Homo sapiens: one gene and its partners. The protein of the gene in region 6 purifies or fractionates together with the protein of the main gene of each other region. This does not show direct contact. Each region holds a gene or a part of one and is shown on either strand. Other genes may lie near its edges.

The links.
Region 1: the proteins of CCDC9 (region 6) and KIF1C purify together in Homo sapiens (affinity purification with mass spectrometry; one large-scale study listed by BioGRID and IntAct). This does not show direct contact.
Region 2: the proteins of CCDC9 (region 6) and KCMF1 purify together in Homo sapiens (co-immunoprecipitation; one large-scale study listed by IntAct). This does not show direct contact.
Region 3: the proteins of CCDC9 (region 6) and FYTTD1 purify together in Homo sapiens (affinity purification with mass spectrometry; one large-scale study listed by BioGRID and IntAct). This does not show direct contact.
Region 4: the proteins of CCDC9 (region 6) and PPP2R3B purify together in Homo sapiens (affinity purification with mass spectrometry; one large-scale study listed by BioGRID and IntAct). This does not show direct contact.
Region 5: the proteins of CCDC9 (region 6) and TBCCD1 purify together in Homo sapiens (affinity purification with mass spectrometry; one large-scale study listed by BioGRID and IntAct). This does not show direct contact.
Region 7: the proteins of CCDC9 (region 6) and E2F3 purify together in Homo sapiens (pull-down; one large-scale study listed by IntAct). This does not show direct contact.

What each region holds. Positions count from the first base shown.
Region 1 is NC_000017.11:5,007,950-5,011,449, reverse strand, and holds part of KIF1C (kinesin-like protein KIF1C), read right to left. Parts: intron 1-3,500. UniProt on the Homo sapiens protein: Motor required for the retrograde transport of Golgi vesicles to the endoplasmic reticulum. Has a microtubule plus end-directed motility.
Region 2 is NC_000002.12:84,977,661-84,981,160, forward strand, and holds part of KCMF1 (E3 ubiquitin-protein ligase KCMF1), read left to right. Parts: intron 1-3,500. UniProt on the Homo sapiens protein: E3 ubiquitin-protein ligase which accepts ubiquitin from an E2 ubiquitin-conjugating enzyme and then transfers it to targeted substrates, promoting their degradation by the proteasome.
Region 3 is NC_000003.12:197,770,383-197,773,882, forward strand, and holds part of FYTTD1 (UAP56-interacting factor), read left to right. Parts: intron 1-3,020; coding exon 3,021-3,117; intron 3,118-3,500. UniProt on the Homo sapiens protein: Required for mRNA export from the nucleus to the cytoplasm. Acts as an adapter that uses the DDX39B/UAP56-NFX1 pathway to ensure efficient mRNA export and delivering to the nuclear pore.
Region 4 is NC_000023.11:338,408-341,907, reverse strand, and holds part of PPP2R3B (serine/threonine-protein phosphatase 2A regulatory subunit B'' subunit beta), read left to right. Parts: coding exon 1-25; intron 26-511; coding exon 512-601; intron 602-967; coding exon 968-1,143; intron 1,144-3,011; coding exon 3,012-3,130; intron 3,131-3,197; coding exon 3,198-3,304; intron 3,305-3,500. UniProt on the Homo sapiens protein: The B regulatory subunit might modulate substrate selectivity and catalytic activity, and might also direct the localization of the catalytic enzyme to a particular subcellular compartment.
Region 5 is NC_000003.12:186,564,540-186,568,524, reverse strand, and holds the start of TBCCD1 (TBCC domain-containing protein 1), read left to right. Parts: upstream 1-1,185; 5' UTR 1,186-1,258; intron 1,259-3,985. UniProt on the Homo sapiens protein: Plays a role in the regulation of centrosome and Golgi apparatus positioning, with consequences on cell shape and cell migration.
Region 6 is NC_000019.10:47,266,525-47,269,488, forward strand, and holds part of CCDC9 (coiled-coil domain-containing protein 9), read left to right. Parts: intron 1-86; coding exon 87-268; intron 269-2,964. UniProt on the Homo sapiens protein: Probable component of the exon junction complex (EJC), a multiprotein complex that associates immediately upstream of the exon-exon junction on mRNAs and serves as a positional landmark for the intron exon structure of genes and directs post-transcriptional processes in the cytoplasm such as mRNA export, nonsense-mediated mRNA decay (NMD) or translation.
Region 7 is NC_000006.12:20,485,379-20,488,878, forward strand, and holds part of E2F3 (transcription factor E2F3), read left to right. Parts: intron 1-1,310; coding exon 1,311-1,425; intron 1,426-2,734; coding exon 2,735-2,870; intron 2,871-3,500.

The DNA of each region.
Region 1 (3,500 bases), on a different chromosome or scaffold from region 6:
CAAGAAGCTGCTCAGGCCCAGGCTGGGGGTGAGAGCCCCAGGGTCTGGTCCTGTCCCTATCCTCAGCCCCTGAGAAGGCAGCTCAGAACCAGGTTTGAACACCACTGATTTAAGCAATCCTTAGCCCTGGTGGTGGGGGTCTTAGCAAGAGGAGGCTCCCTCCAAGACAAACTGTAGTTTTTTCCTCTAAGACCCAACTATTCCCTGTTGGAGCTACTCACACCAAACCCATTTCCCCATGAGTCTAACAGTTCTCTCTTCTGGCTTTAGACCACATGGCTTTTAAACATGAGAAGAGTTCATCCTCACCACCTTGAGAAAAATGTAAAAGTGAACTACCTTAAGACACCTTCTCACCAATCACACAGGCAAAGAGAAAAGTCTTACTAAGCCAGAATGTGGGAAAGGGCGAGGGGAAATGGGCTCTCTTGTATGTTACCCTTGGGAGTATAAATTGGTATGGTTCAAAAAATTAGCCAGGAGTGGTGGTGGGCGCCTGTAGTCCCAGCTACTTGGGAGGCTGAGGCAGGAGAATGGCGTGAACCCGGGAGGCGGAGCTTGCAGTGGGCCGAGATTGCACCACTGCACTCCAGCCTGGGCAACACAGCAAGACTCCATCTCAAAAAAGTAAAATAAATTGGTATGGTTATAATCTTCAGAGGGCACTTTGGCAATATAGATTAAAAAAAAAATTTTTTTTTTTGAGACGGAGTCTCGCTCTGTCACCTGGGCTGGAGTGCAGTGGCATGATCTCGGCTCACTGCAAGCTCCGCCTCCCGGGTTCACGCCATTCTCCTGCCTCAGCCTCCCAAGTAGCTGGGACTACAGGTGCCCGCCACCACGCCCGGCTAATTTTTTCTATTTTAGTAGAGATGGGGTTTCACCTTGTTAGCCAGGATGGTCTCGATCTCCTGACCTCGTGATCCGCCCGCCTCGGCCTCCCAAAGTGCTGGGATTACAGGCGTGAGCCACCGCACCCGGCCTAGATTAAAATTTTACATGGCTACCATTTGACCCAAAATCTCCATTTCTAGGAATCTGCTCTACAGATAACACCCATTTGTAAGACTATGCATTGTAGCCTTTTTTTGTAGTATCAAGGAATGGGAAACAATCTGAATGTCCATCAGTGGGAAGCTGGTTAAATACATTATCCTACATCTACACAATAGAATACCCTGACACCGTGAAAAAAATAAAGGAAGCTTTAAAATAAGGTATGCAGGCCAAGCACAGTAGCTCACACCTGTAATACCAGCACTTCAGGAGGCCAAGGCCAGTGCATCATTTGAGGCCAGGAGTTTGAGACCAGCCTGGCCAACATGGCGAAACCCTGTCTCTACTAAAATACAAAAATTAGCCCGGCGTGGTGGTGGGTGCCTGTAATCCCAGCTACTTGGGAGGCTGAGGCATGAGAATCACTTGAACCTGGGAGGCAGAGTTTGCACTGAGCTGAGATTGTGCCACTGCACTCCAGCCTGGGCGACAGAGTGTGACTCTTGTCTCAAAATAAATAAATAAAATAGATATGCAACTACAACTATTAGAGAGGCCGTGAATGTGAGTAAATGTGTATAGTTCTATATAACATATGCCTGTACATGTGTTATAACATCTCCTAGACAGCATCTCTAGGAGAACATTTTTTCTTTTTTTTTTTTTTGAGACAGAGTCTTGTCTGTCACCCAGGCTGGAGTGCAGTGGTGCGATCTCAGCTCACTGCAACCTCTGCCTCCCGGGTTCATGTCATTCTACTGCCTCAGCCTCCCTAGTAGCTGGGACTACAGGCGCCCGCCAGCACACGTGGCTAATTTTTTGTATTTGTAGTAGAGACGGGGTTTCACTGTGTTAGCCAGGATGGTCTCAATCTCCTGACCTCGTGATCCACCCGCCTTGGCCTCCCAAAGTGCTAGGATTACAGGTGTGAGCCACCAGGCCCGACCCAAGGAGAATATAGTAAGAACCCATAATGGGCCTGGCACGGTGGCTCACACCTGTAACCCCAGCACTTTGGGACTCCGAAGTGGGTGGATCACGAGGTCAGAAGTTCAAGACCACTCCGGCCAACATAGTGAACCCCATCTCTACTAAAAATACAAAATATTAGCCGGGTGTGATGGTGTGCGCCTGTAATCCCAGCTACTTGGGAGGCTGAGGCAGAAGAATCGTATGAACCCAGGAGGCGGAGGTTGCAGTCAGCCAAGATTGCACCGTTGCACTCCAGCCCGGGTGACAGTACAAGACCCCGTCTCAAAAAAAAAAAGAACTCATAATGAAGGCTGCCTCTGAGGGGAAACTTAAGGGTGGGAAGGATGGAGAGTTACTTTTTTTTTTTTTCTATAACAAAATGCTGTAAATTGGAGACTTTTCACTGTACACACCTTTTAGAACTATTAGAATGTTCTCTCTGGTGTGTATTACCTTTATAAGAACAATTAAAACAAGAACCCCCTCCTTTGGTCCCCAGGCTTTGGCAGGTGGCATCTCTGCAAGCTCTCCAAGGAAGAAACCTCCACCCCACCAGTCTCCCCAGTCCTTTCTGCTTTTCCTCCATCCTTGCAACCGTGGTGGAAGCGGCCCAGCTCCAGGTATACAAAGGTGGCTGGAAGCCATGCTGAGCGCATCCGTAGCCCCTCTTTCCACCTAGGTGTGGCTGGGTCCCAGAAGAGTCTGGATCCCTCAGAAGGACCCCAAAGCCCCAGGGTACCCAGCCCCAGACAAGACCCCAGACACGCAGCCTGGCCTACCGCCCACAGCTCTTTCACTCCCTCAATGTGGCTTGGGCCAGGCAAGGCAAAACCCCTCTCCTCTTTTCAGAACAGGGGTTCAGTGATCCCTGCTTGCTTAGTCCCCCAGATGGACCTGACTTTACAAAACAGAGAGGAGCCTTCTTCTGGTAACCCATCACCTCTTCCAGGCAGCCCCCAGTGACACTGTCTGGCTCAGAGCACAGTGTATCTGACTTAGGGCCTGATCCTCTGCTGCTTCACACCATGGTCCAGACGGGCTGGGCTGGTTCCCTGGTGGAACTGGAAGTTCATGCTCTGCTCAAACTGGCCTCTGCACCATCCCTTCACTGGTATACTGGCCTCTGCACCATCCCTTCACTGGTATGCACCGGTACAGCGGTGCTGGCTGTCTATATCCAGTGTCCTTTCTGACTGGTCAGTCCCTATGCCGGATGGTTATTAATATTTGGAGTATCATTCCTGCCTCCACCTGAGCCTGACCTCTCCCGCCCTGCTCCTTCCTTCCTTTCAGCAAAGATTTATTAGGTACCTAAAACCTGGCGGCAGGCACGTGTCAGGCACTGGCGTGTCCCACTCACCCCAACATGTACCCCAGGCTCTTCAACCTCATGTTGGCCCTACTCCTCCATACTTCCCAAGTCCTGTCCATCTTTCAGGTTCCACTTTCCAAACCACCTTCTCCAGGAAACCAGTTGCAGCATAGCTCCAAGCTACACGGGTGCCTCCATCTATAACCAACCCCTCGCTGCA
Region 2 (3,500 bases), on a different chromosome or scaffold from region 6:
GATTCTCCCACCTCAGCTCTCGAGTACTGGGATTATAGGTGTGAGCTGCCATGCCCAGCAACTTTTTCAGTTTGAATAAATCGTAAATTACATTTACCTTGACTTTCAATAGAGAATATATAAGAATGTAAATTTATGGGAAAATGAATCACATTTTAATTTCTGGGGTCTTTGATTTCATAATTTCATTTAAAGTTCATTTTGAAGCTCATTTTCCCATATTTTTATATTCATGTTTAAGTTAAAATGTAGTAAAACATAACTACATGTTCTTGTTTCAAATTGGGAACTCAATTTGGAAGAGATTCCTTTTAGTCTGAGATTTTAAGATGTTTTAGCAGCAATCTTTTTTTTTTTTTCTTTCCTCGCTCTTGTTGCCCAGGCTGGGGTGCAATGAGGCGATCTCAACTCACCGCAACCTACGCCTCCCAGGTTCAAGTGATTCTCCTGCCTCAGCCTCTCGAGTAGCTAGGATTACAGGCATGCGCCACCTCACCCAGCTAATTTTGTATTTTTAGTAGATAGAGGGTTTCTCCATGTTAGTCAGGCTGGTCTTGAACTCCCGACCTCAGGTCATCCACCCGCCTCGGCCTCCCAAAGTGCTAGGATTACAGGCATGAGCCACCGTGCCCAGCCTTAGCAGCAGTCTTGTAAGATGGTAACTTTTTCACAGTAGCAGCTTATGAAACTTATGATGTGAAATAACTAAACAGACCCCTTCATATTAAGCTTTGCAACCTTTTTAAAAGAAATCCATGCATCATAACTTATTTTCAAAACATCAACTTTATGATATCTATCATATATATTTGCCTAGGTTTTTTGTCTTTTGGTTTTTGGGTTTTTTTTTTTTTATACTTTAAGTTTTAGGGTACATGTGCACAATGTATTTGGGTTTTTTTTTGAGACAGAGTCTCACTCTGTCATCCAGGCTGGAGTGCAGTGGCATGATCTCGGCTCACTGTGGCCTCTGTCTCCCAGGTTCAATAAATTCTCCTGCCTCAGCTTCCCAAGTAGCTGCATTACAGGCATGTACCACCATGCCTGGCTAATTTTTGTTTGTTTGCTTTTTGAGATGGAGTTTCGCTCCTGTTGCCCAGGCTGGAGTGCAATGGCGCGATCTCAGCTCACCACAACCTCCACTTCCTGGGTTCAAGCGATTCTCCTGCCTCAGCCTCCCGAGTAGCTGGGATTACAGGCATGCGCCACCATGTCTGGCTCATTTTGTGTTTTTATAGAGACAGGGTTTGTCCATGTTGGTCAGGCTGGTCTCGAACTCCTGACCTCAGGTGATCTGCCCACCTCAGCCTCCCAAAGTGCTAGGATACAGGCATGAGCCACCGTGCCTGGCTAATTTTTGTATTTTTAGTAGAGATGGGATTTCACCATATTGGCCAGGCTCGTCTCGAACTCCTGACCTCAAGTGATTCCCCCTTCTGCCTCCCAAAGTGCTGGGATTACAGGTGTGAGCCACCGCGCCTGGCCATGTTTTTTTTGTTTTTAAACTAGAAGCTCCAAAAGTTTTTAGTGAAGGCTAAGCTGTCATTGAATTATCCTAGAAATAATGTTTTTTAAATCACTTTATGAGCTGGGCGCTGTGGCTTATGCCTGTAATCCCATGGGAGACCAAGATGGGTGGATCACTTAAGGTCAGGATTTTGAGACCAGCCTGGCCAACATAGTGAAACCCCATCTGTACTAAAAATACAAAAAAATATCTGGGCGTGATGGCAGGCGCCTGTAATCCCAGCTACTCGGGAGGCTGAGGCAGGAGAATCTCTTGAACCCAGGAGGCGGAGGTTGCAGTGAGCTGAGATCACCCATTGCACTCCAGCCTGAGCAACAAGAGCGAAATTCTGTCTAAAAAAAAAAAAAAAATCACTTTATAAATATAGCTGTGGGGCTACTTTCATGCATATGGACTCAAAGGAAGCGCTCCCTAAACTGCATATTCATAAAAGTTAAAAGTAGAATGCTGTTCCTAATAAAAGTCTTTTTTTATAGAAGATTAATTTTTTAATTAATTTTAGTGTTGTGCTAAGGACCATGATGTTTTTCATTTCCTTAAAATTATAAGGTATTTTTTCAGTCTTTGAAGTTATTCATTAAAATTGAGAAAAGAACCCGTAAGCAGTATACAGATCAGAGCATCTTAAAATTTGGTAATTTTTTTTTTTTTGAGACCGAGTTTCACTATTGTTGCCCAGGCTGGAGTGCAGTGGCGCGATCTCGGCTCACCGCAACCTCTGCCTCCCGGGTTCAAGTGTTTCTCCTGCTTCAGCCTCCCAAGTAGCTGGGATTACAGGCATGCGCCACCACGCCCGGCTAATTTTGTATTTTTTTTTTTTTTGTAGTAGAGATGGTGTTTCTCCATGTTGGTCAGGCTGGTCTTGAACTCCTGACCTCAGGTGATCTGCCCACCTCAGCCTCCCAAGTGCTGGGATTACAGGCATGAGCCACTGCGCCCAGCCAGTTATTTTTATATGTTAGCCATGTCTTGATTTATGTTAAAGATCTGGGATAAGGCAGACAGTTTCCTAAAGGAACATATTACCTAGATTACATGAGAAGGAAGTGAGGAGCCAGGAAAAGATAGGCTGTTCTTGGGTTGGTAAGGACCAGTGGCCAGGTGGGTGTTGGCAGAGGAAAGACAGGCAAGGTGGGTGTGAAGCTTGGAAATGGATCTGTAGCTACAGGATGTTGGAAACAGAAAACCAGCTCTCACGCCTGATGGAATGTCTTGAGAGCTGGGTACCAGGAAGTGAAAACACTGCCCAATGAAATGAACAAGAGATGAATGAATTGCCTTGTTAGGCACCTTCCACCATTCCCTCTCTGCTACATCCCTGATGGCCCTCTTGGTGTTTGTTAACCATGGTAACTGCCTGTAGAATTGTTTTTAGTTGTTGGCTCTCTGAGTTGTAGCAAAGTAGAATTATGAGTTCATCCAATTCATATACACAGTCAATTAGCCTCATATCTTTTTTTTTTTTTGTCTTGAGGCCGGGTCTCACTCTGTCACCCAGACTGGAGTCCAGTGACATAAACAAGGCTTACTGCAGCCTCAACCTTTGGGCTTACGTGATCCTCCTGCCGCAGCCTCCCAAGTAGCTGGGAGTACAGGCATGTGCTACCACGCCTGAATAATTTTTGAAATTTTTGTAGAGATAGGGTCTCATTGTGTCATCCAGGCTGGTCTTGAACTCTTGGGCTCAAGCAATCCTCTTGCCTCGGCCTCACAATGTGCTGGGATTATAGGTGTGAAGCACCACACCCAGCCTAGCCTCATCTCTTCTATGGCCACAGTGCCAGCCAGCAGTCCATCAAACTTTGCCAGTGGCCACGGGGGTACTGGCAAAGAAGTATAGATGGATCCCTGTAACTTAATCACTGCTACTAGAAAAAAAAAAACTGAGATCAGAAGAGTGGGTCAGTTGTATTACCCTCAGCTAGAAGAAATAGCAGAAGAATAAGTGGATGAAGCATCTTGATATCATGAC
Region 3 (3,500 bases), on a different chromosome or scaffold from region 6:
CATCCACATGGATGTATCCAGTAATAGCTTGTTTATTAGATGAATTCTTACTGATGAAGTTAACCGATATAAGCTTTTTAAAAAGCATCACTCTGCTTCTTTACCTCTTTGACATATGGAATAAAATTGCAAAAGCTGATCACTTTAGTAGAACTCTCTTTTTTTTCTCCCTGTTTTTTGAGACAGGGCTTCTCGATCTGTTGCTGAGGCTGGAGTGCAGTGGCGCCATCACTGCTCCCTGGAGCCTTGGCCTGCCCTGGGCTCAAGCGATCCTCCCACATCAGCCTCCTGAGTAGCTGGGACTGCAGATACATGCCACCATGCCCTGCTAATTTTTTTTTTTTTTTAATAGAGACAGGGTCTCACCATGTTGTCCAGGCTGGTCTCAATTCCTGGCCTCAAGTGATCCTCCCACCTCAGCCTCCTAAAGTGCTGGGATTACGGGCATGCGCCCCTGTGCCCAGCCCTGGTAGAACTCTTAACATCTTAGTGGGAATTATTCAAAATTGAGAATTCTGAAATCTCAATTTGTTACTCAGTCTGGATGGCTCTTACTAGAACACTGAATCACAATGTATGTTATTTGTGGAAAAATCAAACTAGAAAGGGAGAATTCTTCATGAACACTTGTTAAACTGAAATTATTTTTATACTAAATTGAATAATAAAAACCAAAAATTATGGCCTGTGAGCTGGGTGCAGTGGCATGTGCCTGTGGTCCCAGCTACTTACGAGGCTGAGGCAGGAGGATCACATGAGCCCAGGATTCAGGGCTAACCTGCTGGGCAACATAGTGAGACCCCCATCTCTGAAAAAGAAAGAAAAGAAAAATTATGATCTGTTGTTATGGCATTCTGTTCTCTGTAAGGACAAAGTAGATGAAGTTGATGAGGTGTGAAGTTTCCTTATTCAGTTTCAAGTATTATTTATTTATCTTTCGTGGAAGATAAGTCAGCAAAAAAAACCTGGAATGAGGTTTTTAAAAAATGCAGTGGCTGGGCACAGTGGCTCATGCCTGTATTCCCAGCACTTTGGGGGGCTAAAGCAGGCAGATCACCTGAGGTCAGGAGTTATGTGGCAAAACCCCATCTCTACTGAAAATGCAAAAATTAGGCCGGGTGCGGTGGCTCACGCCTGTAATCCCAGCACTTTGGGAGGCCGAGGCGGGCGGATCACGAGGTCAGGAGATCGAGACCATCCCGGCTAAAAACGGTGAAACCCCGTCTCTACTAAAAATACAAAAAATTAGCCGGGCGTGGTGGCGGGCGCCTGTAGTCCCAGCTACTTGGGAGGCTGAGGCAGGAGAATGGCGTGAACCCGGGAGGCGGAGCTTGCAGTGAGCCGAGATCCCGCCACTGCACTCCAGCCTGGGCGACAGAGCGAGACTCCGTCTCAAAAAAAAAAAAAAAAAAAAATGCAAAAATTAGCCCGATGTGGTGACCGGTGCATGCCAGCAATCCCAGCACTTTGGGAGGCCGCTGCGTGTGGATCACCTGAGGCCAGGAGTTCGAGACCAGCCTGGCCAACATGGTGAAACCCCATCTCTACTAAAAATACAAAAATTAGCTGGACGTGGTGGTTCATGCCTGTAGTTCCAGCTATTTGGGAGGCTGAGGCAGGAGAATCGCTTAAACCTGGGGGGCGGAAGTTGCAGTGAGTCAAGATGGTGCCACTGCACTCCAGCCTGGGTGACAGTGAGACTCTGTCTCAAAAAAATAAAAATAAAAAAACAAAAAATGGAATGGCTGGAATTGCAGTTTTAACCATCATCTTTTGGGAATCACTTGATAGTACCTTTTGTGAAAGGGGACCTTCTCAAATAAGAACCCATCATTTACGTGAGACTTACATGTTAATTGGGTTAGCTAGGGCAGTTTTGAACTTGAATCTCTGAAAGATTGGAGGTAAGACTAGGGAATCTGTTAAACACTCGTTTATATAGTGTTTCATATTTATCAATACATCAGTTGAAGACATGGAATGTTAGAGGATTGAATATTTCATAGATAAATATGAAATTTTAATTTTTCGTACTTCACTAACTTCCTATAGAAAACAAAAGAAATTAGGTGCCGCAAACCACCATGGCACATGTATAGCTACATAAGAAACTTGCACGTTCAGCACGTGTCTCAGAACTTAAAATTAAAAAAAAGAATTGGTGACAGTCATAATTAAGAGCATTGTTCTGTGCATGAAAGAACAAGAAATAGAAGAGTATAAGTTTTTCTGTGGTTTGTATATTTTTTGAGATGAAGTCTGTGTCGCTGGGCTGGAGTGCAGTGGCGTGATCTCGGCCCACAGCAACCTCTGCTTCCCTGATTGAAGCAATTCTCATGCTTCAGCCTCCTGAGTAGCTGGGACTACAGGCGTGTGCCACCAAGGCTGGCTAATTTTTGTGTTTTTAGTAGAGACGGGGTTTTACCATGTTACCCAGGCTGGTCTCAAACTCCTGACCTCAAGTGATCCACTCACCTCAACCTCCCAAAGTGCTGGGATTACAGGTGTGAGCCATAATGCCTGGCCTCTATGGTTTATGTTAATACATAATGGTTTCTGAGTGAGGAAGGAAGAGAAAGCTGGAGGAGGAGATGTTATTTTTCAAACCTTTCTCTTTATTTTTGGTCTTCAGTTTATTTTACGTCTTCAGTTTGGCCTATGTGTGGTTTTTCTTTGTACTAATCCTATAAATTGTAAAGTTATGTTTTCACCAAATATAGGAAATAGCACTAAAAATGTGATTATTAATGTCTTCAGAAGATATATGGGATATTAGAGGATTGAATATTTGGAAGATAAAGTGGTTTGAAATTAACACGTGGTTATGTGCTATGCTTCGGAGGGAGGTATTTGTTAATCAAATCTCAGTAGCTTCATGTTAATAAGCAAATAATTCAGAGTTGTTTGTTTCTTGCACCTCATGTTTGCAGCCTATGAATTTAACTATTTTTGCTTATTTTTCCTCAAGATGTTTGAAAGTAGTTAAATGGCTTAGCATGGCCTATGTGTTTTTGTTGCAGAAATAACATTCCAGCTAATTTTACCAGGAGTGGAAATAAATTAAATCATCAGAAAGATACTCGTCAGGCAACTTTTCTTTTCAGAAGAGGCCTGAAGGTATTTAAAAACTTTGGCAGTGTTTTTGTTTGTTTGTTTGTTTTTTCCCAAAGAGGATCCTGAGCAGCCACCTTTAGTAAGCCTCAGTCATAGGCAGCATTGGGTTCAGGATGTGAGGCACGTGGTAGTAGATTAGTTCTTCCTGTTGTATGTTTTTTATTTCCCATCTTTTCTTACCCTCAATAGCAATGTCTTATAAGAATTTAACTCGTTATTTGGGAATAAACCTGTATTTGCCACTCGTTCTCATGTAGGAATTCCAACAGGGAACTGTTGCCAGAATAGCGTGGGCCCCTCTGCTGCACTCACGCACACACCCCACTGGGTTAGGAAGTTCTAGAATAGCACGGGCCCCTCCGCTGCACTCACGCACACGCCCCACT
Region 4 (3,500 bases), on a different chromosome or scaffold from region 6:
GGATCTTCTCAGGAGCAGTCACACGGTACGTACGGCTCAGGCGCCTGACGGCAGCCATTGCCCCTGCGAGGACCCCGGTCCCTCTCCTCATCGTTGCCTGACGTGAGCTTTTTGTGCCCCGACAGCGAGTGGTTGTCACCCCAGGCCCTGGCGAGGGGGGCACGTGTCTCTGTCACGTGAATCCCTAGTGGGGGGGGGTGGCACAAGACTGTCACGCGAAGTCTGAGGAAGGGGGTGGCCCAGGCCCCAGGTCGGGGGTTCTTGTCGGGCGCTGGGCCTGAGTGAGCAGTAACGAAGGTGCACTCCTGACCCTGCCTGGATCTGGGGAAAACCCTCTGGCCACGGGGCCTCCACCTCCTCCCCGGAGAGGCAGGAGGAGGGGCAGGAGGGGGGCAGGAGGAGGGCCGGGCCCGGGGGGCTCCCCTCACCGAGGCGCGTGGACAGGGGCTCCGTTCCTGTGAAGCTCTCCCTGACATGCATCTTCGTCTCTCCATCCTGGCTTTCGATCTAGAGGCAGAAAAGTGCAGAAGGAAGGGAAGATCAGCTATGCCGACTTTGTCTGGTTTTTGATCTCTGAGGAAGACAAAAAAACACCGACCAGGTGGGTTCCTGCTGCGGCATGCGTTTGTCCCAGTGGAGGGGCCGGGAGCCGCCCATGTGACATGTGTCCCCAGGCGGATGCCTGCACGCCTGGTGGGGGCTGCACGGCACAGGGGGACATGTGCACGCCCGGTGGGGGCTGCACGGCACAGGGGGACATGTGCACGCCTGGTGGGGGCTGCACGGCACAGGGGGACGCGTGCGCGCCCGGTGGGGGCGGCAGGGGGCAGGGGATGCCTGCACGCCCGGTGGGGGCTGCAAGGCACAGCGGGGACGCGTGCACCCCCGGTGGGGGCTGCCTCAGGGGCTGCAGGTCACGGGCTGGGAGGGCCCAGGGCAGGGGCTGACAGAGCTCGCCGTGCCGCAGCATCGAGTACTGGTTCCGCTGCATGGACCTGGACGGGGACGGCGCCCTGTCCATGTTCGAGCTCGAGTACTTCTACGAGGAGCAGTGCCGAAGGCTGGACAGCATGGCCATCGAGGCCCTGCCCTTCCAGGACTGCCTCTGCCAGATGCTGGACCTGGTCAAGCCGAGGACTGAAGGTGATGCCCCGTGAGGGCATGGCCCAGGGTGAGGGGACGGACGGGCGAGAGGACGGCCCAGGGTGAGGGGACGGACGGGCGAGAGGACGGCCCAGGGAGAGGGGACGGATGACAGCCCAGGGAGAGGGGACGGACGGGAGGGAGGACGGCCCAGGGAGAGGGGACGGACGGGAGGGAGGACGGCCCAGGGTGAGGGGACGGACGGGAGGGGGGACGGCCCAGGGTGAGGGGACGGACGGGAGGGGGGACGGCCCAGGGTGAGGGGACGGACGGGAGGGGGGACGGCCCAGGGTGAGGGGACAGACGGGAGGGGGGACGGACCAGGGTGAGGGGACGTCCCTGTGAGGCGCTGTCCTACTGAGTTTGTGAGGAGGGCCAGCACCACAGGTGCCTAGTCTCACAGTGCAAGAACCTCCTATTCGGGGCGTCGACACCCCCCGAGGGGTGACCTAGAGAACCTAGGGCCGGAGCTCACCGGGGACGTTGGCACTGGGCTGAGGGAGCAGTTGCCACGTTCGTGCTGATGCCGCACAAGGCGGTCCTCCCCTCACCCCCCCCCCCCCCGTCTCCTCCCCTCTCACCCCGCCCCCCCCGTCTCCTCCCTTCTCACCCCCCCCGGCTCCTCCCCCCCTCTCGCCCCCCCCATCTCCTCCCCTCTCACCCCCCCCATCTCCTCCCCTCTCACCCCCCCATCTCCTCCCCTCTCACCCCCCCCATCTCCTCCCCTCTCACCCCCCCCATCTCCTCCCCTCTCACCCCCCCCATCTCCTCCCCTCTCACCCCCCCGGCTCCTCCCCTCTCACCCCCCCGGCTCCTCCCCTCTCACCCCCCCGGCTCCTCCCCTCTCACCCCCCCCAGCTCCTCCCCTCTCACCCCCCCCCGGCTCCTCCCCTCTCACCCCCCCCCGGCTCCTCCCCTCTCACCCCCCCCCGGCTCCTCCCCTCTCACCCCCTCCGGCTCCTCCCTTCTCACCCCCCCCGGCTCCTCCCCTCTCACCCCCCCCGGCTCCTCCCCTCTCACCCCCCCCGGCTCCTCCCCTCTCACCCCCCCCCCGGCTCCTCCCCTCTCACCCCCCCCCGGCTCCTCCCCTCTCACCCCCCCCCGGCTCCTCCCCTCTCACCCCCCCGGCTCCTCCCCTCTCACCCCCCCGGCTCCTCCCCTCTCATCCCCCCCCGGCTCCTCCCCTCTCACCCCCCCCGGCTCCTCCCCTCTCACCCCCCCCCGGCTCCTCCCCTCTCACCCCCCCCGGCTCCTCCCCTCTCACCCCCCCGGCTCCTCCCCTCTCACCCCCCCCCGGCTCCTCCCCTCACCCCTGTTCCCCCCACACCATCTCCCCAGCTCCTCCCACCCACCCCCGTGCCCTCTAAGGCAAAGGGGAGCCCCACCGTCCACGCCGCCTGGCTTCCTTCTGCATCTCAGAATCCAGCTCTGGGACTTTCACTTTGGAAATGGCTCTGAGGCCCGGGCACCGCCCTGCAGCCCTGCCCCCCCCGGCCATGGGGCGCCTCCTGCTGCTCAGTGTCCCCGGGACACCCTCTGGCCTCTGCCTGCACGGGGAGCTCCGTTCTCTGTAATTTCAGATCCAGCAGCGCCCCTGCTGGCCGCGCCTCCCTGCGCTAGTCCCAGTCCACGCATCCTTGGGGCACCGGTGGCCCCTAGTCGCCTCCGCATCACGGCCTCCCACGCCTCAGTCCCCACCCAGAACCAGGACACTCGCGTGTCCGCCTTTCACGTCAAACACGTGGCGTGAGAGCCCGGAGCTTCGTGCCGCGTCCTTAAGCACGTGTGACAGGACGCGCGCACCCCACACCCAGGCCCCGAAGGTGAGACCGGGCTCACGCGCCTTGGACGCACTCCCCTCCCCGCAGGGAAGATCACGCTGCAGGACCTGAAGCGCTGCAAGCTGGCTAACGTCTTCTTCGACACCTTCTTCAACATCGAGAAGTACCTCGACCACGAGCAGAAAGAGCAGATCTCCCTGCTCAGGGTGAGTGCGGCGGGCACGCGGGCCGGGCCGCGCCACGCCGTGTACGTAACCCGTGTGCTTCCTCCAGGACGGTGACAGCGGCGGCCCCGAGCTCTCGGACTGGGAGAAGTACGCGGCCGAGGAGTACGACATCCTGGTGGCCGAGGAGACTGCGGGAGAGCCCTGGGAGGACGGGTGAGTGGGGAGGACGGGTGAGTGGGGGGACGGGTCAGTGGGAGGACGGGTGAGTGGGGAGGACGGGTGAGTGGGAGGACGGGTGTGTGTGCAGCCGGGGGATGCGGGGTCAGTCAGGTGGGGTGCGCGGACACAGAGGGGCGGGGTGAGACCTGACACGGGGCCGGTGAGGTAAGGACAGCCGATGACAGGGCCG
Region 5 (3,985 bases), on a different chromosome or scaffold from region 6:
AAAGAGCACCTTAGAACAGTGCCTGGCATGGAGTAGGTGCTGAAGTACTTTTGAGTCAAAGTTACTGGGATGGTGATCATTGTATGGCTGGCTTCTTACTCTTCAGGCCTCAGCTCAAATTTGGCACCACAAAGTGGCCTTCCCTGACCCCCCGCCCCAATTTTCATAGCATTTTTCACTATTTGAAATTATCTTATTTTATTCCTTAATATGTATTGTCTATTCTCCCTGTTATACACTCCAAGAAAGCAAGGACCTTGTCTGTTTTGTTCACTTCTGTCATTCTAGTGCGTACCACTGTGCCAGACACACAGTGGTACTCAACAAGTAACAGCAGGGTCACTGAGCTAATAAGTGGTGCAGCCTGGATCCTAACCCAGGTATGTGTAAATTTGAAGCCCCTGCTTTCAGGAAGATACCCAGTAGGGACAATGGCCACACAAAAGAGGAACTAAATTGCATTTTACGGTCTAATTTACCTTTGTATCTATCACACCTAGAGAGGCCATAAAGGAACTAAAAAAAGCAGGAAATGTCCAGAAATTCTGAAATGGAAGTTTAAAGGAAGGAGTGATGGCTTCTGCCCGGTAATCTGAAAAAGCTTCATGAAGGTGGAAACACGGCAGGAAAGCTAACAGAGTTAAGGAGCTGACACCGAGGGGCGGCAGGGAGTGCCAGTCTTGCTTCAGACGCCCTGGGCTTGAATCTTGGCTCCATCTCTTGTGTGACCTTAGGGTTGTGTTATTTTCACCTTTCTAGGCCCTAGTTTCTTCATCAGTAAAACGAATGTACTTAAAGGGCTCTTGACAAGACTTAGGAAATACACATAAAGTTGCTTTACACAGTGCTGAGACCATAGTAAGTGCTCTATAAATGCAAACTGCCATTAGTATTAGTAGCATTTCTGATGAAAGCGTGCTGATCTTACCAGCAGCTATTAGCTGACCACAGTTATGCGGAGCAACAGAAAGCTTCCTACCCCCCCGGGTTGAAAGGCGCGACACCAGAAAGCGGTGGGTCTGGCTCCAGGTGCCACTGTTGCGGACTCTCGACCCCAGCCTAGATTTTCTCAGACGCTTGAGCCGCAATCTGCCGCTCTAGCAACGGGGTCCGCCAGGTCTCGGTGGTGCGGGGCCTCGCGCTTGCGCAGTGGGCACGGCAGCGGCGCGCGGAGGAGGGTGAGGGGCGGGCCCAGCGAGCGGACGCCGGGCGCGGCGGCGCGCGGAGAAGTGCGGCGGAGCGGCGCCTGCATTAGCAGGTAACCGCGCACTGGGTGCGCCGGGGAGGGCGGTGTGGGTTAGTCAGGCTTCAGGCTTGGGTCGAGGAGGCTGCCTTCGCGCTTACCGCGTCTCGGGTCAGCTACCGACCCTGTCAGCGTGAGCGTCTGTGTTCCTGAAGTCCGGTCGCGACGCTGGGGCGGCCCACGCAGAGTCCCACCCCGGATCGCGTCCAAGGTGGCGGCGAAGCCCCAGGACAGCCGCCTTGGACCCACGCCGATCTCCCGACCTGAAAAACCTTAACCTCAGGGCACCGCCAGGGTCAGAGCCCCAGTTTATGTTTGTTTACGGATTGAGCCCTCTCGATTCTCGGAGTTAGAATGGAGGGCTCATCTCTGGGATCTGGCTGTTGACAGGGGCTCAGTACCTCACAGAGCAGCCTCTTTACATTTTGGAGAGAACCGAGGTCTTCCTCGCCTAACTTTTATCGTCTGGTTTTACTCAAAACGACTCCAGTCTCTCCACATTGGAAGACAGCTGCCTTTTGCCCTTCCACGCCCTTCTTTTGAGTTTACTCTCCCTGGTTCTTTCACCTGGCTTCCTGTCTAAGACTCTTTATTCTGGAAATTCTCTTCTGGATCCACTCCCGTTTTTAAGAGATTCTCCCAAAACTGGATTCCTAGAGTACATTTATAGTAATGCAGTTCTCAAGTCAGACCTGAATCCTAATCTAGAGCTGTGCCAGCTAAGTAGGTGTCCTTAGGGAAATCCCTTAACTTCGCTAAGCCTCATTTTTTTTTCATCGAAAATGTGTACAGTCTTAAGTACTGTATCTCCAGGTGGTTGTGAGGATGAAAGGAGGTGAAGTATGCAAAATCATGAGCATGATACCTGGTACATAGTAAGCACTCGATTGATGTCAGTTATTTTTCCGAACAGATGATTCTCGAGAGAGGCACAGTTGGCAGGCCGGGTGCGGTGGGTCACGCCTGTAATCCCAGCACTTTGGAAGGCCAAGGCAGGCGGATCACCTGAGGTCAGGGAGTTCAAGACCAGCCTGGCCAACATGGTGAAACCCTGTCTGTACTAAAAAAATACAAAAATTAGCCTGGCGTGGTGGCGGGAGCCTGTAATCCCAGCTACTTGAGAGGCTGAGGCAGGAGAATCGTTTGAACCTGGGAGGTGGAGGTTGCAATGAGCCGAGATCGAGCTATTGCACTCCAGCCTGGGCAACAGAGCGAGACTCCGTCTCAAAAAAAAAAAAAAGAGAGAAGCACAGTTTTCTTAGAATCAAATGCAAAATATAATAATAGCAATAAAATTTTCATCAGTCATATAATTGATTTTTTAAATTAGTTTTTATATTTTTAAAAAAATGATGTTGCTAATGTTGAGGAGTGCACAGTGAAGTAGGTACCAGAGTCAAAGGATGGTACAATTTGATAAAATCATTTGGAAGCAACAAGGATATATTTCACAAGCTTTAGAAATGTCAATTACTTAATTTCACAAAAGTACATCTGAAAATTTTCACACAGAAATAATTCGTAATGCAGAAAATATGAAGAAAGATGGTAGTGATAGCATTATTTACACTTGTGACAACATTTGAACTTTTGTAATGAAATTTTTTAACATACACAAAAATAGAATCAGTGAGCCCCCCACGTACCCATTACCCCACTTCAATAATGATCAGTATTTTGCCTATGTTGTTTTTGTGAAAAATCTGAAACCTAGTAAGGTGTCTAAAAATGGGAGAAGAGTTGAATAAAATGGGATACATTTATTTAGAATACTATAAAGCTTTTGAAACAGTACAGAATTGTGTATGTAACATCACAACTGTGAAAATTCAAAAACTAACATCTAATTTATGTGTAGAAAAAAGACAAAGAGGCCAGGCATAGTGGCTCAAGCCTGTAATCCTAGCACTTTGGGAAGCTGAGGCGAGGGATCACTTGAGGTCAGGAATTTGAGATCAGCCTGGCCAACATAGTTAAACCCCATCTCTACTAAAAATACAAAAATTAGCCAGGTGTGGTGGTGGACGCCTGTAGTCCCAGCTACTGGGGAGGCTGAGGCATGAGAATCGCTTGAACCTGGGAGGTGGAGGTTGCAGTGAGCTGAGATCATGCCACTGCACTCTAGCCTGGGCAACAGAGGGAAACTCCATCTCAAAAAAAAAAAAAAAAAAAGAAGAAGAAGAAGGAAATACAATAAAATATTAATTTGTTGCCCTTTACTTGTGGGATTGTGGATGGTTCCCTGTTTTTGTATTTTATAAATATTCCATAAAAATCATGTATCATTGTTACAACAAAAAAAAATCTAAAAAATCACACCTGAACTGAGCAGGATCAAATATGCTAGAGTGGGTTCACTGTTATAGAGAATAAAGATGCTGTAACTTCTCCTGATCTATTCTTGCAGTCTACATTTACATTAGCATTCTTGCCTGCTGCCTCACATTAGCACTTCATATTGAATTTATATGCTCAGCTAACATGTCCAGATCTTTAACCAACTGTCTTCTGTGTAAGTGATTTAACTCTGTGAAATGTATTTCCCTTATTTTGAACAGTGTTCCCCCTCAGAGTAGAAAAAGGTTTCCTGTGATAGGATGACTTTTTTCCCCTCATTCATTTTCTTCCTGGGATCTCACTCAGACTTCATGCATCTACACACACTTCCTAAAACAAGGATTTCTAACAATTCAAGTAAGATAATTTTGTTTTATCACAATTTTTTTCTCAGATTATAATGAG
Region 6 (2,964 bases):
ATCCTGAGCAAGTGGATGTGCCTCGGGGCTTAGGGGCGGGGTAGGGTGCGGGACATCACCCTGACTCCCTGTGGGCTGGGGGGCAGGGCCGCCGAGCTGGCCTGGGCAGTGCTGGAGACATGACGTTGTCCATGACGGGCCGGGAGCGGTCGGAGTACCTGCGCTGGAAGCAGGAGAGGGAGAAGATCGACCAGGAGCGGCTGCAGAGGCACCGCAAGCCCACTGGCCAGTGGAGGCGCGAGTGGGATGCCGAGAAGACCGATGGGATGTGAGTCTCCTCCCCGCTCCTCTCCCCATGTGGCACGTTGACCTTGGCCCTGACTTCTAAGTCCTATGCCTCTCTCTGGTTTTTCCTGCTGTGTATGAGTGAGTGACTGCCAAGTATCCTGAGATGCCATGGACCAGCTGCTGGAGCTCAGCGGCACGTGAGAGCATTTCTGGTTTTCTTTTTTTTTTTTGAGACGGAGTCTCGCTCTGTCGCCCAGGCTGGAGTGCAGTGGCGTGATCTCGGCTCACCGCAAGCTCCGCCTCCCAGGTTCACACCACTCTCCTGCCTCAGCCTCCCGAATAGCTGGGACTACAGGCGTCCGCCACCACGTCCAACTAATTTTTTGTATTTTTAGTAGAGACAGGGTTTCACCGTGTTAGCCAGGATGGTCTCAATCTCCTGTCCTTGTGATCTGCCTGCCTTGGCCTCCCAAAGTGCTGAGATTACAGGCGTGAGCCACCGCGCGCGGCCGAGCATTTCTGGTTTTCTTTTTGTTTTTGGAGACAGAGTCTAGCTCTGTCGCCCAGGCTGGATGGAGTGCAGTGGGAGGATCTCAGCTCACTGCAACCTCCGCCTCCCGTGTTCAAGCAATTCTCCTGCCTCCGCCTCCTGAGCAGCTGGGGTGAGAGGATTTCTTCTGTGTTCATGGGTATGCTGGGCTGAGCTGATCCAGGCTGGACGCTAAGCTGTGGGTCCCGCTGGGCTTGGCTTCTTGCAGCAGGGTGAATTCACTCTGCGCCAGGGTGTTCATTCTGCTGTCCAGGCTGAGGGCAGCAGCTGCCTGGGGAGCGCTTGCCCTGACATGGGCAGATGCACAAGCAGGCACACTTCCCAGTTGTGTTCGCCAGCACACCCCGCCTCACTGGGGCGGGGAAATAAGCTCTGCCCCCTCCAGTGGATAGGAACACCGGTGGCGGCAGGGACATCAGTTCCAACGCAGGGAGGGCATGAAGGCTGTTTAACAGCGATTAGACCTTTGCATCCTCCTGCCAGCCTCTGACCTGTCCCCAGCAACTCAGATCCCTGAATGTCTCCATGCCTCACCGTCACCTTTTTTTTTTTACTTTTTTTTTGAGACGGAGTCTCGCACTGTTGCCGGGGCTGGAGTGCAGTGATGTGATCTCGGCTCACTGCAACCTCCGCCTCCTGGGTTCAAGCGATTTTCCTGCCTCAGCCTCCTGAGTAGCTGGGATTACAGGCACGTGCCACCACATCCAGCTAATTTTTTGTAATTTTAGTAGAGGTGGGGTTTCACCATGTTGGCCTGGCTGGTCTTGAACTCCTGACCTCATGATTCACCCACCTCAGCCTCCCAAAGTGCTGAGATTACAGGTGTGAGCCACCGCGCCCGGCACCACCACCTTCTTAACCCAGTGGCATTGTTAACCTCAAGTTTGACTTTGTCCCCCGATTCAGTCAGACTTAAAGCAAAGCCCTCATTGCATCATCGTCATGGGGACCAACTTCCATAACCAAGAAGGAGAAGGTTCTGGAAGAGCCGATAAATAGCAGTATTTAAAGATCAGCAACTTTAGGTTTTACCTCATCCCCCATTCTTTCCTGTGTTGAAAGTTTTCATTCACCTATAACTTGTTTTTTGGCTTTGGCTAAGGAGGATTTTGTCTGTTTGCCCAGTGGTCGGGAAGCATTTTGTTGTGGATTGTGAACCAAGCCTGTGCGAGTGTGAGAAATAATTTGCACAGATACTATAGCTGATCTTCCTAAGGAGGAGGCAGCTGGGCTTTTGGGGAGATGTTCTCAGCATTCACAATGAGAAAGTATTTGTTTTTCTTATGTGTCCTAAAAGCAGTTTGCAACAAGTCTGATGAATAATGTTTGTGTGGGCCGGGTGCAGTGGCTCACGTCTGTAATCCCAGCACTTTGGGAGGCTGAGGCAGGTGGATCACGAGGTCAGGAGATCAAAACCATCCTGGCTAACACGGTGAAACCCCGTCTCTACTAAAAATACAAAAAATTAGCCGGGTGTGGTGGTGGGCGCCCTGTAGTCCCAGCTACTCGGGAGGCTGAGGCAGGAGAATGGTGTGAACCTGGGAGGTGGAGCTTGCAGTGAGCCGAGATCTCACCACTGCATTCCAGCCTGGGCGACAGAGAGAGACTCCGTTTCAAAAAATAATAATAATAATAATAATAATGTGTGTCTGGGCCAGGCGTGGTGGCTCATGCTTGTAATCCCCACAATCCCAGCACTTTAGGAGGCCAAGGCTGGAGGACTGCTTGAACCCAGGAGGTTTGCAGTGAGCTGTTATGATGCCACTGCACTCCAGCCTGGACCACAGAGCAAGACCCTATCTCTAAGAAAAAAAAATGCATGGTGTCTTGCTTTCATCAGCATATATTTGAGTCCTCCTCTATGTCATGGAAGGTTCTAGGTGATACAGCAGCAAACAAAACATTTCTGCCTTTTTGGAACTAAGAGTGTAGTGGGCAAGGTGGGTAATTAAGAGGTCTAATGTTAGGCCCAGAAGGATAATGATGCAGAGTAAGCAGCCAGGGTGGAGGTTAGAATTTTAGACTTAGATAATCTGTGTAATAATATTATCTTTTTTTTTTTGTTTTTTTGAGACTGAGTCTTGCTGTGTTGCCCAGGCTAGAGTGCAGTGGTGTGATTTCAGCTCACTGCAACATCGCCTCCTGGGTTCAAATAATTCTGATTCAGCCTCCCGAGTAGCTGAGAT
Region 7 (3,500 bases), on a different chromosome or scaffold from region 6:
GACCAGCCTGGGCAACAGGGTAAAACCCCATCTCTACTAAAAATAAAAAAAATTAGCCGGGTGTGGTGGTGCACGCCTGTAGTCCCATCTGTTTGGGAGGCTGAGGCACGAGAATCATTTAACCCCAGAGACGGAGGTTGCAGTGAGCTGAGATTGGGCCACTGAACTCCAGCCTGGGTGACAGAGCAAGATTCTGTCTCAAAAAGAAAAAGGAAATAACTACCAAGAGTACTGAGATATTATACTTTTCTCTTTTCCTAAATCAGTGTTTCTCAAATTCATTCAAGTCGCAGAGCACCTGGAAACTGCTTTCTTCCTCATGAACACTGAAATATTGATAGAGTTAATATAGTATCACGCAAAGCATAATTTTTCTAACAGAAATAATGACACTCTTTTCTGTAGGCAGTACATAATCACAACCAGCCCAGGTGCACTTAAGAAAACAAGCTGTCTGCCTGAGCAGTATTCTGAGTTCCTCCACTAATGTATTTGTTACTTATTTATTTACTTGGTGGCTGCTGACACTTGCTTGTAGATAGAAGTAACTGGAGTTTCAAAAAAATTATGGCTAATAGAGATTACATTTTTTTTTCCTGCAAATTGGAATCTGCCATCATTCAGTTTGAGTGACAGAACACTTTATTGGAGTTCATGGAATGCCTGTGCTGCAAAGGACCCTGGCTTCAAGATAAAATTTCTGACCACTTAGTTTTTTATTTTCTTATGATCATTTATTTTAACTGTTCTGTTTCTATGTTTAATATTTTAAATAGCCATAGTCTTTTTAGAAATGGGCGGGATAAAGCTATTCATTTCTTTAGTTGTTTAGAGTGTCAACCAGAAATGAAGATTCATGGGAGACCCTAAACATTTGCACATCCAGAAGGGGAGACATACACATACTTTTTTGAGAAGGAGTCTCGCTCTGTCGCCCAGGCTGGAGTGCAGTGGCGCGATCTCGTCTCACTGCAAGCTCCACCTCCCGGGTTCATGCCATTCTCCGGCCTCAGCCTCCCGAGTAGCTGGGACTACAGGCGCCCGCCACCACGCCTGGCTAACTTTTTGTATTTTTAGTAGAGACGGGGTTTCACCGTGTTAGCCAGGTTGGTCTCCATCTCCTGACCTCATGATCCACCCGCCTCGGCCTCCCAAAGTGCTGGGATTACAGGTGTGAGCCACCGCGCCCGGCCACATATGCATACTTCTAAGTCATAAAATACTTTAAAATATTCCATGCATCTATTTTGTCATTTTCATCATACTTATATCTGAGGTAATTAGATGGAAGATTCCTTGACACTCTTTACGTTAGCTTATGTTACATATCAAGATATTCGAAAAATTAGTGGCCTTAAAGACCAAACTGTTATAGTTGTGAAAGCCCCTCCAGAAACAAGACTTGAAGTGCCTGACTCAATAGAGGTAAGGAGACAGCGTCTTTGTTCATCTGCAAAGATCTTTGTGGAATGCCTGAAATTGAATGACTCATTGACTCATAGTTAAAGTCTGTCCCCCTCCTATGAACTTGATGGTTCTTTCCCATTTATTTTACTTAACCATACATTTGAAAACATTTCAATGGTTTGATGTTCATTGAGTATTCAAACAACCTAACTTTGACCTAGCAGGATGTTCAGTTCAAAGTGGTATATGATGCGCTGTCCCTCTCATACTTTCTCTTTTTCATAATTTGTCATCAACGGTTTTGATCAATTTGAATCACTTTGGAAAGTTTATATTGATTATCCTGTATATGGTCCCCACCACGAACAGATATATAAATGTTTTAAAGTCTCTCCCTAACTTATAACATTTTGAGAGATCACATGGGGCTTTGGGTTAGCTGATAGACTAGAATATTGCAAGAAAGTAGGGGGCATATTTTTGTAATTTTCAGATATACTTGGATAATAGAGGCCTAGACTACAACTATAACATAAAGAGTTGTAGTAAAAAGAAAATGCATAGGAGATAAAAAGAGAATGAAAGTTACACGCTTCCATCTAGGGTAGACTTCTTACCTTAAAAGATAATAATAGCTCTTTGACCTAGATGAAAAAGATTTTTAAATGTTGGTATGCTGCATTCTCTTAATAGATGCAGTTCCTAGCACTTAAGAATACTATTCATCAGTATACAGTTCAACATGAAAAAGTCCTACCATAAAGGAACAATAACATGGAGATACTGAATTTGGAACACTTAAAGGACCTTGTAATAATTTGCAGAAAAAGAATATATCCAAAGAACACAATTCACCTCACCCATTGTGCTATTTTCAGAATGACTCCCCTCTCCCCCAAGCCCCACTAAAATAGTTTTCTTTCTCTAGGGCAGGACTCAGCAAACTTTTTCATTGAAGTGCCAGGTAGATAGTAAATATTTTTGGCTTTGCGAGCCGTACAGCCTGTGTCTAGACTATTCAACTGTGCACCTCTGACATTGTGATACGAAAACAGCCAGAGGCAATAATAAACAATGGGAATGGATGTGACTCTCTTCCAATAAAACTTTATTTACAAAGCCACTTGGTGAACTGGATTTGGCCCTTAGGCTGTGGTTTGCTGACCCCTGCTCTAGAGGATGACAGTCTTTCATAGAGTTGGACTAGTAGGGAAAAAGCAAGTGAAAAACGAACATTGTTCTTACTTTCCATTTTTAGACAAGAATTACTATGGCTTTTATTTCTAAAAGAACTTCTGATTCGAACTTCTCCCACTTCTGTTCATAGAGCCTACAAATACATTTGGCAAGTACCCAAGGGCCCATTGAGGTTTACTTATGTCCAGAAGAGACTGAAACACACAGTCCAATGAAAACAAACAACCAAGACCACAATGGGAATATCCCTAAACCCGCTTCCAAAGGTAAAAACTCCACTTTTGTCTTTTAGAAACTATGTTAAAAATGAGGGTGACTAGAACCATCTGTATTGGAACCACAAGCCTAGGCAAGAAACACAAACTTCTATTGGTATTAGGTAACATGTTTTAAAAGACATTCTGACTGGTTTGCAGAAGAAAATAATGATTTGGGAAAAACGGCTCCTTCACCCACTTATGGAGTCGCTTCAGGCTTTTGCTATTGGCAGAGAATGTTTCCTTACAGCATTTTTGAAAACCAGCTAAAGTGAGGAGCAAAGCTGTGAACTGTCTTGTTGGATCATCAGAGACACTTGGCCACACACCTTTGAATCACACTGCAGAGCTCATCAGAGAGGGAAATGAAAAAGGTTTGAGGAGAAAAGCCTTTGTTGGAGAATTTTTGTCTTATTTTCCCCCCCAATGAGATGGGGAGAGGATATGGGAGGAGAACGCTAGGAAAGTAAGTCTTGCCGGGTGCGGTGGCTCACACCTGTAATCCCAGCACTTTGGGAGGCCGAGGCAGGCAGATCACGAGGTCAGGAGATCGAGACTGTCCTGGCCAACACAGTGAAACCCTGTCTCTACTAAAAATACAAAAATTAGCTGTGCGTGGTGGCACGTGCCTGTAATCCC